Linked DNA regions of Homo sapiens: region 2 is linked to region 1. Evidence: fine-mapped QTL for protein levels in blood plasma. Region 1 holds a variant in brackets. A gene starts in the other region. All regions are shown on their forward strands.

Region 1 (5,385 bases):
CTCTATGTATAAGAACAGAGTCAAGAAAATTGCCTAATAATTGGTCTGCCCAAACTTGTGAACTGTTTGCACTCAGCCAAGCCTTAAAGCACTTGCAAAACCAGGAAGGAACCATCTATACTGATTCTAAGTATGCCTTTGGAGTGGCTCATACATTTGGAAAAAGTTGGACTGAATGTGGCCTCACTAATAGTAAAGGTCATGACCTTGTTCATAAGGAGTTAATCATCCAAGTACTGGATAACCTTCAGTTGCCAGAAGAAATAGCTATTGTCCGTGTACCCGGGCACCAGAAAAGCCTTTCTTTTGAAAGTCGAGGAAATAACCTAACAAACCAGATAGCCAAACAAGCTGCTGTTTCCTCCGAAACACCTATGTTTCACTTAACTCCTTGTCTTCCTTCCCCTACTGCAATTTCCTTTTTCTCTTCCATTGAAAAAGAAGAATAAAGATAGGAGCCAAAGGAGAAGACCAGAATGAAAACGGCTGTTACTAGACCAAAAGGAAATGTTATCCAAGCCCGTTATGTGGAAGATCTAGTCTCAACTATATCTGAGGACACACTGGGGATCCCAAGCCATGTGCGATGCAGTTCTCAGGGTCTATGGATGTATAAGAATTTACACCCTAGCCAAACAAGTTACAGATAGTTGCTTAATATGTAAAAAGACTAGTAAGCAGATTCTAAGAAAACCGCCCCTTGGAGAAAGAGATTCAGGGCTAAGACCATTTCCAAGTGTTCAATTAATTATACTGAAATGCCCCCAATTGGTCATTTAAAATACTTATTAGTAATAATAGACCACTTTACCTACTGGGTAGAGACTATCCCACACTCAAATGCAACCACCAGTAACGTAGTTAAGGCATTAATTGAAAACATTGTACCCAGATTTGGACTAATACAAAGCACTGATTCAGACAATGGAACCCATTTCACTGCATATGTCATTAAAAAGTTAGCCCAGGTACTAGACATAAAATGGAAAAACCATATCCCTTGGCATCTCTCCTCCTCAAGAAGAGTAGAAAGGATGAATCAGACTCTAAAAAGCCACTTAACTAAATTAGTTCTAGAAACTTGATTGCCATGGACTAAATGTCTTCCTATTGCCTTGTTAAGAATCCGAACTGCTCCTCAGAGAGATACTGGCCTTTCCCCTTATGAGATGCTCTATGGATTGCCCTATTTATACTCCACTGCTAACATTCCTACATTCAAAATAAAAGATCAGTTCCTCAAAAATTATATACTTGGTCCATACTCTACTTTCTCTTCCCTTAAGACTAAAGGTCTCCTAGCACAGGCGCCACCGCTGGAGTTTCCAGCACATTAGCGTCAGCCTGGAGACCATGTCCTCATAAAAGGGTGGAAGGAAGGCAAACTCAAACCAGCTTGGGAAGGACCCTACTTGGTGCTCCTAAATACTAAGACTGCAGTCCGAACAGCAGAATGAGGATGGACTGATCACACCCGCGTCAAAAAGGCGCTGCCACCTCCAGGATCATAAACCGTCACTCCAGGGCTCACCCCAACCAAATTAACTCTAAAAAGGGCTTAATAATCACTTGTTTATTTTTTCTTTTCTTTCCAACAGAAGGTCATCTTGTCATCAATGTAACTTGGGCTAACCATCCTTTAATCCTTCAGTTTGATGCTTGTTCAGTCATCCTGTGTGGAGACAAGCAAGCTCAAAGGAAGCTGTCTCATGTAGATAAGTACCTATGTCCATACCATAAAAAGTCAACCAAGTATAAGTATAGAACCTTAAAAAGTCCCTGTGGTGACTGGACAGATGTTTGGAAACCACTCAGTATGGAGGGTGGACAGCCAGGCCCCCTTTTTCAAATAAGTTATGGGGACTAAAACAGAAACTCCAACTAATTCATGGTCCCACCCCACCAAACTGTAAGCCACTGCAGTGTAACCCCTCATTGCTAATTATAGCTAACCCCCAAACAATGGCCCAAGAACCCACTATATTCAAACAGTATGGATTAGGAGCAAATGTTACAAAACAAAATCCCATAAAAATCTTCAACCACTGGTTAACAATGATAATTAAAAAAAAATCCACACCCAGAGTCTGGGAAACGAGTGGAATCTAACACTCTCTCCAAGTATAGCGAGCTCAGCGTCCTCCTCCCATCTCCAAAACAACCCAACTAAAGTAACGGTTGTAAAGGTAAAAAATTTAAAGCAGACTATAGCCCTAGAGACAGGATGTCAAGATGCAAATGCTTGGCTAAAATGGATTAAATATTCCATCTGCACTTTAAACAAATATGAATGTTATGCTTGTGCTCACGGTAGACCAGAGGCCCAGATTGTCCCCTTTCCACTCAGATGGTCTTCTAACTGACCGGGCATAAGCTGTATGGTAGTTCTCTTCCAAGATCACACAGCCTGGGGTGACAAATCATGTCAAGCTCTTTCTCTGCTGTTCCCTGAAGCTCAACACCCTGAGGGTCAGCCCCCGAGGGCCATCAGCTTCCGTTTCCCAATGCCAATTTTACTTTGTGTCTCTCACAACAGGGAGAAAACTTGGTGTTCCTTGGAGCCTTAATGGGATGCAGTGAGCTTAAGTCCTTCCAAGAGCTTACCCATCAGTCTGCCCTTAGTCATCCTCGAGCGGATGTATGGTGGTATTGTGGTGGACCATTACTGGACACTGCCGAGTAACTGGAGCAGAACATGCACTCTAATTCCATTGGCTATCCCTTTCACCCTGGCATTTCATCAACCAGAAAAGACAGAAACCAAACACTGTAAAACAAGAGAGGCCCCTCATGGGTCTGTTGACTCCCACATTTATATAGATTCCACTGGAGTCCAACGAGGAGTGCCAGATGAATTTAAGGCCCAAAATCAGACAACTGCAGGATTTGAATCCACGTTCTTCTGGTGGTTAACTATAAATAAAAATGTGAATTAGATAAACTACATTTATTACAACCAATGATGATTTTTTTTTTTTTGACGGAGTTTTGCTCTTGTTGCCCAGGCTGGAATGCAA[T/C]GGCATGATCTCGGCTCACCACAACTTCTGCCTCCTGGGTCCAAGCAATTCTTCTGCCTCGGCCTCCCGAGTAGCTGGGATTATAAACATGTGCCACCACGCCTGGCTAATTTTGTATTTTTAGTAGAGACAGGGTTTCTCCATGATGGTCAGGCTGGTCTCAAACTCCCGACCTCAGGTTATCTGCCTGCCTCGGCCTCCCAAAGTGCTGGGATTACAGGCATCAGCCACTGTGCCCAGCCTATGATTTGTTAATTATACTAGAGATGCTCTTAAAGGGACAGCTGAACAATTAAGACCCACCAGTCAAATGGCCTGGGAAAATAAAATAGCATTAGACATGATACCAGCGAAAGAGGGTGGAGATTGTGTCATTATCGGAACCCGATGCTATACTTTTATCCCTAATAATACTACTCCAGGTGGGATCACACCAAAAGCACTACAAGGTCTTACTGCCTTATCAAATGAGCTAGCCAAAAATTCTGGACTAAACGACCCCTTCACAAATTTAATGGGAAATTCTTTGGCAAATGGAAGGGATTTATGTCCTCAATCCTCATGTCTCTTGCCATCAGAATAGGGTTGCTTATTCTTGTAGGATGCTGTGTCATACCCTGTGCCCTAGGATTAATACAAAAGCTCATTGAAACAGCTCTCCCCAAAACCTCCCTCAATCCTCCTCCTCCTCGTTCCAGTGAGCTTTTTCTTTTAGAAGACCCAAGTAGAATAACAGAGCCAAATTATGTTAAAAGGGTTTAAAGAAAAAATACTGTAAAATATTTAACAGGGGGATTGTTAAATACAGTAAGAAATTCTTCTTCAAAGGTTCAGCTTGCTTAAGTTTCCTTGTTCTTTGCTCCCTGCTTTCAAGGCCAGACTTCCTTACTCTCTGTGTTCTCCCTGCGCTGGTAAACAACCTTCCCGCCAGTCGTTATCTATAGAGCCCACATTCCACATCTGCTACCCACTCTGTGAATTACCCCTCCCATCACAATGGCTTCTCCCGGCAAAACTGATCTTCCTGCCTTCCCAGCAGTGTAATCACATTCCTGCACTTTTCAAGTTAGCCAACCGGGTTCAGCTTAGATTGTACGGTCCAACTCTAGCCAATGGAGTCAGGATACAGTAGCAGGGACAAGCTGCGTTAGACATAAAAACCTCTGCTTTCCTTTGTTCGGGGTGCTCTCGTGGCAACCGAACCTATGAGGAGCAACCTTATGCAAAAGTAAATTTGCCTTGCTGAGAGACCCTTTGTCCTTTGTCTCAGTGCTAGTTCTTCTTTGCAGCACCAAGCATTTGTTTTCAACAATTATATATTTAAGGAATCTTTGATTATGGAAAATTTCAAGAAGTAGAGGGAATAGCATACTAAGCCCTCTGTTCCCATCTTTGAGTTATCTACATTTTATTAGAAGTATCTTTGGGGTGACTGAGGGAGGTTTCTCTTTCCTGGAGGGCTTCTGAATTATTGCCAATGTACCTTCCTGACTGCAGCCAGAAACTGAGGCCCCTATACCTATGTACCTTTCTATCCCTCTCTGAAGCTTCTGCAGAATTCCCAGCAAGACAGAGCTTGCTGGAAGCTTGGTATGCTCAGAAGCAGCTAAAGCGTGTATGTGGGGCGGAGGGTGGGGGCAACTTCTTGGTCCTAGCACTTCCATATATTGATTTTCTTTTCTGGCTGCTTAGTGGGAGGAGTGTGTGTGTATGCATGTGTGTGTGTGCGTGTGTGTGTGTGTGTACATGCCTGTGTGTGTGGATGCATGCATGTGCTGTGAAGCAGGGAGACCAGCTTTCCGCTCCTTCTTGTTTTCTCTCTGCAGTGACCTGGGAGCTGTCATTTCCCTCCTGCTCTGGGGACGACAGCTTTTTGCACTGTACTCAGGCAATGATGTCACGGATATTTCAGGTCAGTCTTTGAGTTGGGTAGGAGCATGCATCCCTGGCACTGCCACATCCCACTCTGACTCTCTCGGGTCTGCATTCTTTCTTTGAGAACACACAGTTCCCCATTCTTATCCTGACCTCTGGGCTTTCAGGACTGCCAAGAACATTGGGGATCCTGCCAGAAATGAGGGGAGCTTGAGCTTTCGTTGGCTTCTATTTGGGGTAGAAGGAGATTGATGTGCAGAGCAGCTTCCACTCATCTGACTTTTCATGGGTCTCTGGGAACAATTTCCAAATGGTAAACTCTCTGGCTTCTCTCTCTTTGCAGATGACCGCTTCCCGAAGCCCCCTGAGATTGCAAATGGCTATGTGGAGCACTTGTTTCGCTACCAGTGTAAGAACTACTACAGACTGCGCACAGAAGGAGATGGTAAGACCTGGACAACTATCTCTGTGCTCTACCTACAACCCCTGCTCT
Region 2 (5,385 bases), not on the chromosome of region 1:
GGAAATGAAATAAATAATGTTTTCAAGTTGTCCAGATGCATCACTATTCATTTTATTTCTGTCATCACTATTATTTTTACTTAGTTGATATGTGAATCTGTGCCATGAGGAGCTACTGGGGATTAAATCTCAAAAGACCTAGGAAGGAAATGCCAGCACTCTAATTGCTCAATGGCTGTGTGAAAAATTCTCTGAAAGAAAAAGGCAAGGTTCATAAATAACATGTGAATATTCTTCTCCAAAATGTGGAAAGTGGCACTAGTTGATTGGACGATAAGTAGATGAAATAAACTGCTCTGCTTTGCTAGATCTTATTAAATGAACAGAAATATTAACTTAAATCTTTCCAAAGAGGGTGTTTTGAATAAAAAAAAAATCATAGTTAACAATAGTCACAACCATCAGGTTTGACTGAGTAAGCTGTGAACTGAAAAAAGCTGGTGTCTACGAGAAAGGGGAGAATAAAAAAAAAAAAGATTTCTGCTGACTTGGACTGAGTGAACATTTCTATTCAATGTGCTTAGGCCCTGGGCCAGAGGAGAGCTCAGATACAATGCCAAGGTGACATATTTAACCTCTTTGCAGATTAAAGGCAGTGCAAAAGAGATACTCTTTCTGCAGTACCTCTTGGTGTACTGTTTCAACAGTATTGATCTGCAGTTAAAAGCATGTTTTTTTTTCTTTTCTTTTCCTTTCTTTTCTTTTTTTCTCTTGCAGAGTGACCTTTAATACCTGGGAAGGATGAATAAGCACAACCTACATTATTGCTTTATTTTAGAAAAGAGAGCCAGAAATGGTAGTACATTATAATATGAGTTACCATAATCTCTTTAGCTCTTTAATTCTCTTCTCCCATTTTTGCTTTTGTAAATAAGACATTATCAAGAATTAGAGAAATTTTAGGTCTATGTGTGAGCATCTTAACAAATGATAGTAGGAGGCAAAAAATAATTAGTTATAAAGCTGTAAAAGGGAACCAAGAAAGGGAAAATAATCGCAATAACTTAAAAATAATCAAACAAGAATATAGTATAAAAGGAGAAATTTTCCTACCTTTTGGAAAAGCAAAAAGTTCCGTTTCTACATTGCTGTTAGGCTCAGGAGATTGAATAACTTTAGATAATTTAAACATGGAAAACATACAAATTATTTGATTTGAAATTTTTTTTAAAAACTACCTTCTTTATAGTTTATTTCATATATGTAATAAAGTACTTCTACAAAACACATTTCAGGATTCAGGCTTCACTAAGATCTGAATGCTACTGAGGCGATCAACAGTTCCACATTTCTATTCTTGGTCTTCACTAAAATCACCATCATTTATTAGTACTTGCTATTTAATTTCGCAGGAAACAAGAAAACATGAATACAAATGGTAAAATTCTCTATGAAGTATCTTTTCTGTAAATCACACAAAACTTTTTTTGGTAAATAAATGGCTTTGTATTATTTAGGCAAAAATATTTGACAGCTTTATCAGATCACGCAAATCAGCTTAACAAATGCAATTAGATAATGCCGTAAATTTATTACAACTTACCTTTAAGTAAGGGGCTGGACCCAGAGCCACTGCAGAAAAATTGAAGTTGAATCCCCTCTGCACACAGACAGGGAATAAAAGTTTGACAAACACCCAAGAAAAACTCTTTAAATCCCTTTCCTCGTTAGCTCTGCTTCTTTGCCCAGAGGCATATTCAAGTCTACTGGAGTTGAAATTCTGCTGCTCTGTCAACTAGTGGGGGTCTGAAGTGACAGACGAGAATTTGGAGGTTGGCACCAGAGAGTATTTCAGACTGTCATCGTTTTTGTTGCAGATTCCTGGATTTCCCTAGCAGGCTGGCCTCTCATGCGAGGGCTTTACAGGCAGTGCTTGCAAACCAAAAGGGAAAGAGCTAATTCTGGTGGCGTGGATGGGGTTAACAGTCTTCCCCTCAAGCTCTTGTTCTCAGAGCCTCATAACTTGGCCAGAATATAAGCACTTGGCTCTTTATGCATTTTTTTTCTTTTTCAAACAACTCTGAAAGGTTTTATAAGCAGCATCCCTTTTTTGGAGATTTTTATTTTAAGACCTTGAAAAGAAACTCCATGCTGTTGTTTCTTTCTAAAGGAAATTGGGGAGTAGGGATTAAAGGAGGGAAGAAGAGAAATGGCAGCAGATGCATTTTTACGTTGCTCAATTGGAAATTGTTCTAGCAAATACAGTCTGAATTTTAATAGAAGGGTACTTCAGATACCTTAACCTTCTTTGAATGAGATTTGGAAATGGACATATATAAAAATGATTGCTCCTTATATTATAGATCACTTGTATGCTGATTCAGAAATGTTGCAGTTCTCCCCTCAACACAGCTCTCCACTGTAACTCCATGGTTATAATGGTTGGTATCTAAGAAGGAGGTTTCCCATAAAAAGAATGGAGGTGTGCACTTATTTTTGGCCCGGGATTCTGGTTGTTTGTATGTGTCTAATCTCTTCTACTGCTACTTCTACATTTATCACACATTTATTATGTGTCAGACACTGTGCTAACAGCTTTTTATGCGTTATTATCAGTTGATCCTCACTACGCATGGTAAGTTTTACTGTGTTCCCATTTGAGGGGTAGTGTCATACAGTGGTTGGATTGGCAGAATTTGAGGCCAGCCAGCTTGGATTTGCATCCTATCTTCACCACTTCCTAACTATGACCCGGGACAAGTTATATAACCTCTCTAAAGCATCAGTGCTTTTATCTATAAGACAGGGATATACATATGGAAATGATGATAATATCTATCTCTGCAATTGTTCTGAGTTTTAAGTTAGTTAACATGATAAACTGCATAGAACACCCCTGCCACGTAGCAGACACTCAATAAATGTTAGCTATTATCATTTACATAAGAGGAAACCAAAGCTTAGTAAGGGTGTTTTTTCTAGGGTATCCAACTGTAACTTACAGGATGGGATTCCAAATCAGCTACCATGGCTGACAGCCACACTTGTGTAACTTATCTATAATCCCTCTATTATGTGATATAGACACATATATATATCATACCTGCTTCTGAGAAAGCTGTAAACTCCTTGAAGGAAGGGGATGTGCCCTTTCTGCATTCTCCTGGTGCCTAGCACAGTGCTTTGCATCCTGTAAATGTTCCATTATCATCAGATGAATAATTATAATTTAATTTAATTTAATTTAGATTTTCTAAATGCATGCCAACGTCTGGCCAAAAGCAAAAACACTGACAAAAACAAAATAAAACCAAAATAAACCAAAAACCCCCACCTACATTTCTAGGCAAATATGCCCTCAGCCAAATCTCTCAAAACACTTTAGAATTATTTGCCCTATTTATTTTCAGAACACTGCAAGAAAAAGGTAACAAGGATTATCTCTACTTTGCAGTTGGAGAAATTTGGGAGCAGAGGAAACTGGGCACTTTGCCTAGGAGCCAAAAACAAGTCACGGTGCAGCTGGGAACACTCACGTCTCTAGAATCAGGATAACTTGTTCCAAACCGCCTTTCCCAGGACAGCATGAAAGGACTTGATGTCTTTTTGCCTCAGACAATAGGATGTTTTTCCTTAGCCAAGGTCTAGGGGTTGAGCAATCTCCTCGGAGGAAGGATAAAGGGGTGGGCAGTGTTTGACCATGCTTCTCCCTGGTGTGCACATCCTCTGTGCACATCTGCTCTGAGAAGTGTGGAAGACACAGACCATTTTTCCAAGTCTCCCAAGGGGCTTGGGAGCAGTGAGACTATTGCAGAATAAGTAAGAAAAGCATTTCTGAGGATTTGGCCTTAGTTGGCTAAAGAAAATTTTCTTGGGGACCCAAAATATTAACTTCTTATTCTAACTAGCATTCCCCATTTATTTAAGATGGCTTTGTAAGATTGATTTCAGGTGATTACATCAATTCAACGAGAATGTAGAAAAAAATTTCATTTAAAGGGCTCTGGAAAAAAAGTTACCCGACTAAAATTTTTTTCTGCTAAAATTGATATTTTATGCTTCTGTAAAATGATCAAAATAAATTTTCTTATGTAACTGTGTTAACCTAAAAAGTAATTACTTAAAGCAAACTGGATTCATCTCTTAAATGTAAATAGGTACCTAGAGAGTTCATTTGTAGGTGGCAAAGCTTGAGAATTTTGACTTTCAGTTTTATTGGAGGTCTTATTAATTTATAACATGATTAATAAAGACCCACTGTATTTCTTACAACAAAACAAGAGAGAAAAATGAATAAAAAAAGGCCTTTGAATTCGCGGTGTCTTTTCAGTATAGCTTTATTTGGAAATGTTTGTTGGCAGATATTCAAACTCTCATTGTTTCTGAAGCTGTTTTTTCTAAAATAGTTTACAGTTCAGAAAGCTGAGGACAATAAACCTGCAACAATACTCACCTAACAGATGGAGCTACAGATCAGATTTAGAAAACGTATGAGACGTCCAAATGGGTTGGGAAAAGTTTGACAAAAAGCTCATTATGTTACTGTACATGAAGAGACGTAACATCACTGTTGGTCAGAGGATGTGACAGATGTCAACATCTAAATGGATTTTCTTTTTTCTTTTTTTTTACCTTTTAGTGTTAGGATTCCCTTTGAGAATCTGATGAAAGCTGTGGGCAAGCTCCTAAAACCCATCTATGAAACTCCCCCCCAGTATCCTCTCAGGGATTCTATGAAGTTAAAAACCCCTAATTCAGGGGAAGGAGCAGAGAACACGTTAATTAATCCTCAAGCATATACAGAACTTCTTTGTTACATATAGCAGAAGCCTCTGGGTGATATCAAAGATGTACTTCCTGCCTATTAGGAGTCCAAGAGCCAAGGCATATGCTCATTGTCAGAGGTCACATGATTCTTTTGGAATAGTGGAGATCCCCAGGAAGGAGGTAAGTATGGGTGAGTGAAAAAGCTGCAGTAAAAACAGAGTGTCTGTATTGATCTTGGCCAGGACCTGGCCTGTAGGACCCTCTTCCTTGATTACCCAATGTATTAGTTTCCTAGGGCTGGCGTAACAAAATACCACAAATTGGGTGGCTTAAACAGCAGAAATTAATTTTCTCACAGTTCTGGAGGCTGGAAGTCCAAGATCAAGGTGCCAGCAGGGTTGGTTTCTCCTGAGGCCTCTCTCCTTGGCTTGTGGATGGTCACTTTCTCACTGTGTCCTCACACAGTCCTTCCCCTGGGCATGTGTGCTTCTGGTGTCTCTGCCTCTTTTTATAAGGACGCCAGTGCTGTTGGATTAGATCCTCACGTTTACGTCTTCATTTAACCTTAATTTACCTCTTTAAAGGCTCTGTCTCTAAATATAGTGACAATGGGGGTTAGAACTTCAATTTATGAATTTTGGGGGAAATAATTCAGCCCATAACACCCCATTACACTTA

Direction of the effects. Alleles are on the strand shown, and positions count from the first base shown. The strength of an association depends on the size of the effect and on how common the allele is.
As copies of T replace C in region 1, the plasma level of the protein whose gene starts at base 1,875 in region 2 goes up (moderate association).

What was found. A credible set is the group of variants that fine-mapping cannot tell apart. PIP is the posterior inclusion probability: the model's chance that the variant is causal. Protein levels are from antibody-based Olink assays in UK Biobank. Linkage for the fine-mapping came from a reference panel and not from the study's own genotypes, which makes the PIPs less certain.
Region 2: it holds the start of SPARCL1, and the variant in region 1 is the best candidate, but not a certain one, in a credible set for the plasma level of the SPARCL1 protein (UK Biobank, PIP 0.77).

The regions. Positions count from the first base shown.
Region 1 is chr16:72,069,049-72,074,433 of GRCh38, forward strand. HPR (haptoglobin-related protein) reads left to right here. Exons shown (of 5, transcript NM_020995.4): 2 at 4,844-4,929; 3 at 5,236-5,337. Among named protein-coding and RNA genes, the nearest start is that of HPR, 8.5 kb to the left of the region's middle. The variant T/C (reference allele first, on the strand shown) is at 3,018.
Region 2 is chr4:87,527,502-87,532,886 of GRCh38, forward strand. SPARCL1 (SPARC like 1) reads right to left here and starts at 1,875. Exons shown (of 11, transcript NM_004684.6): 1 at 1,544-1,875.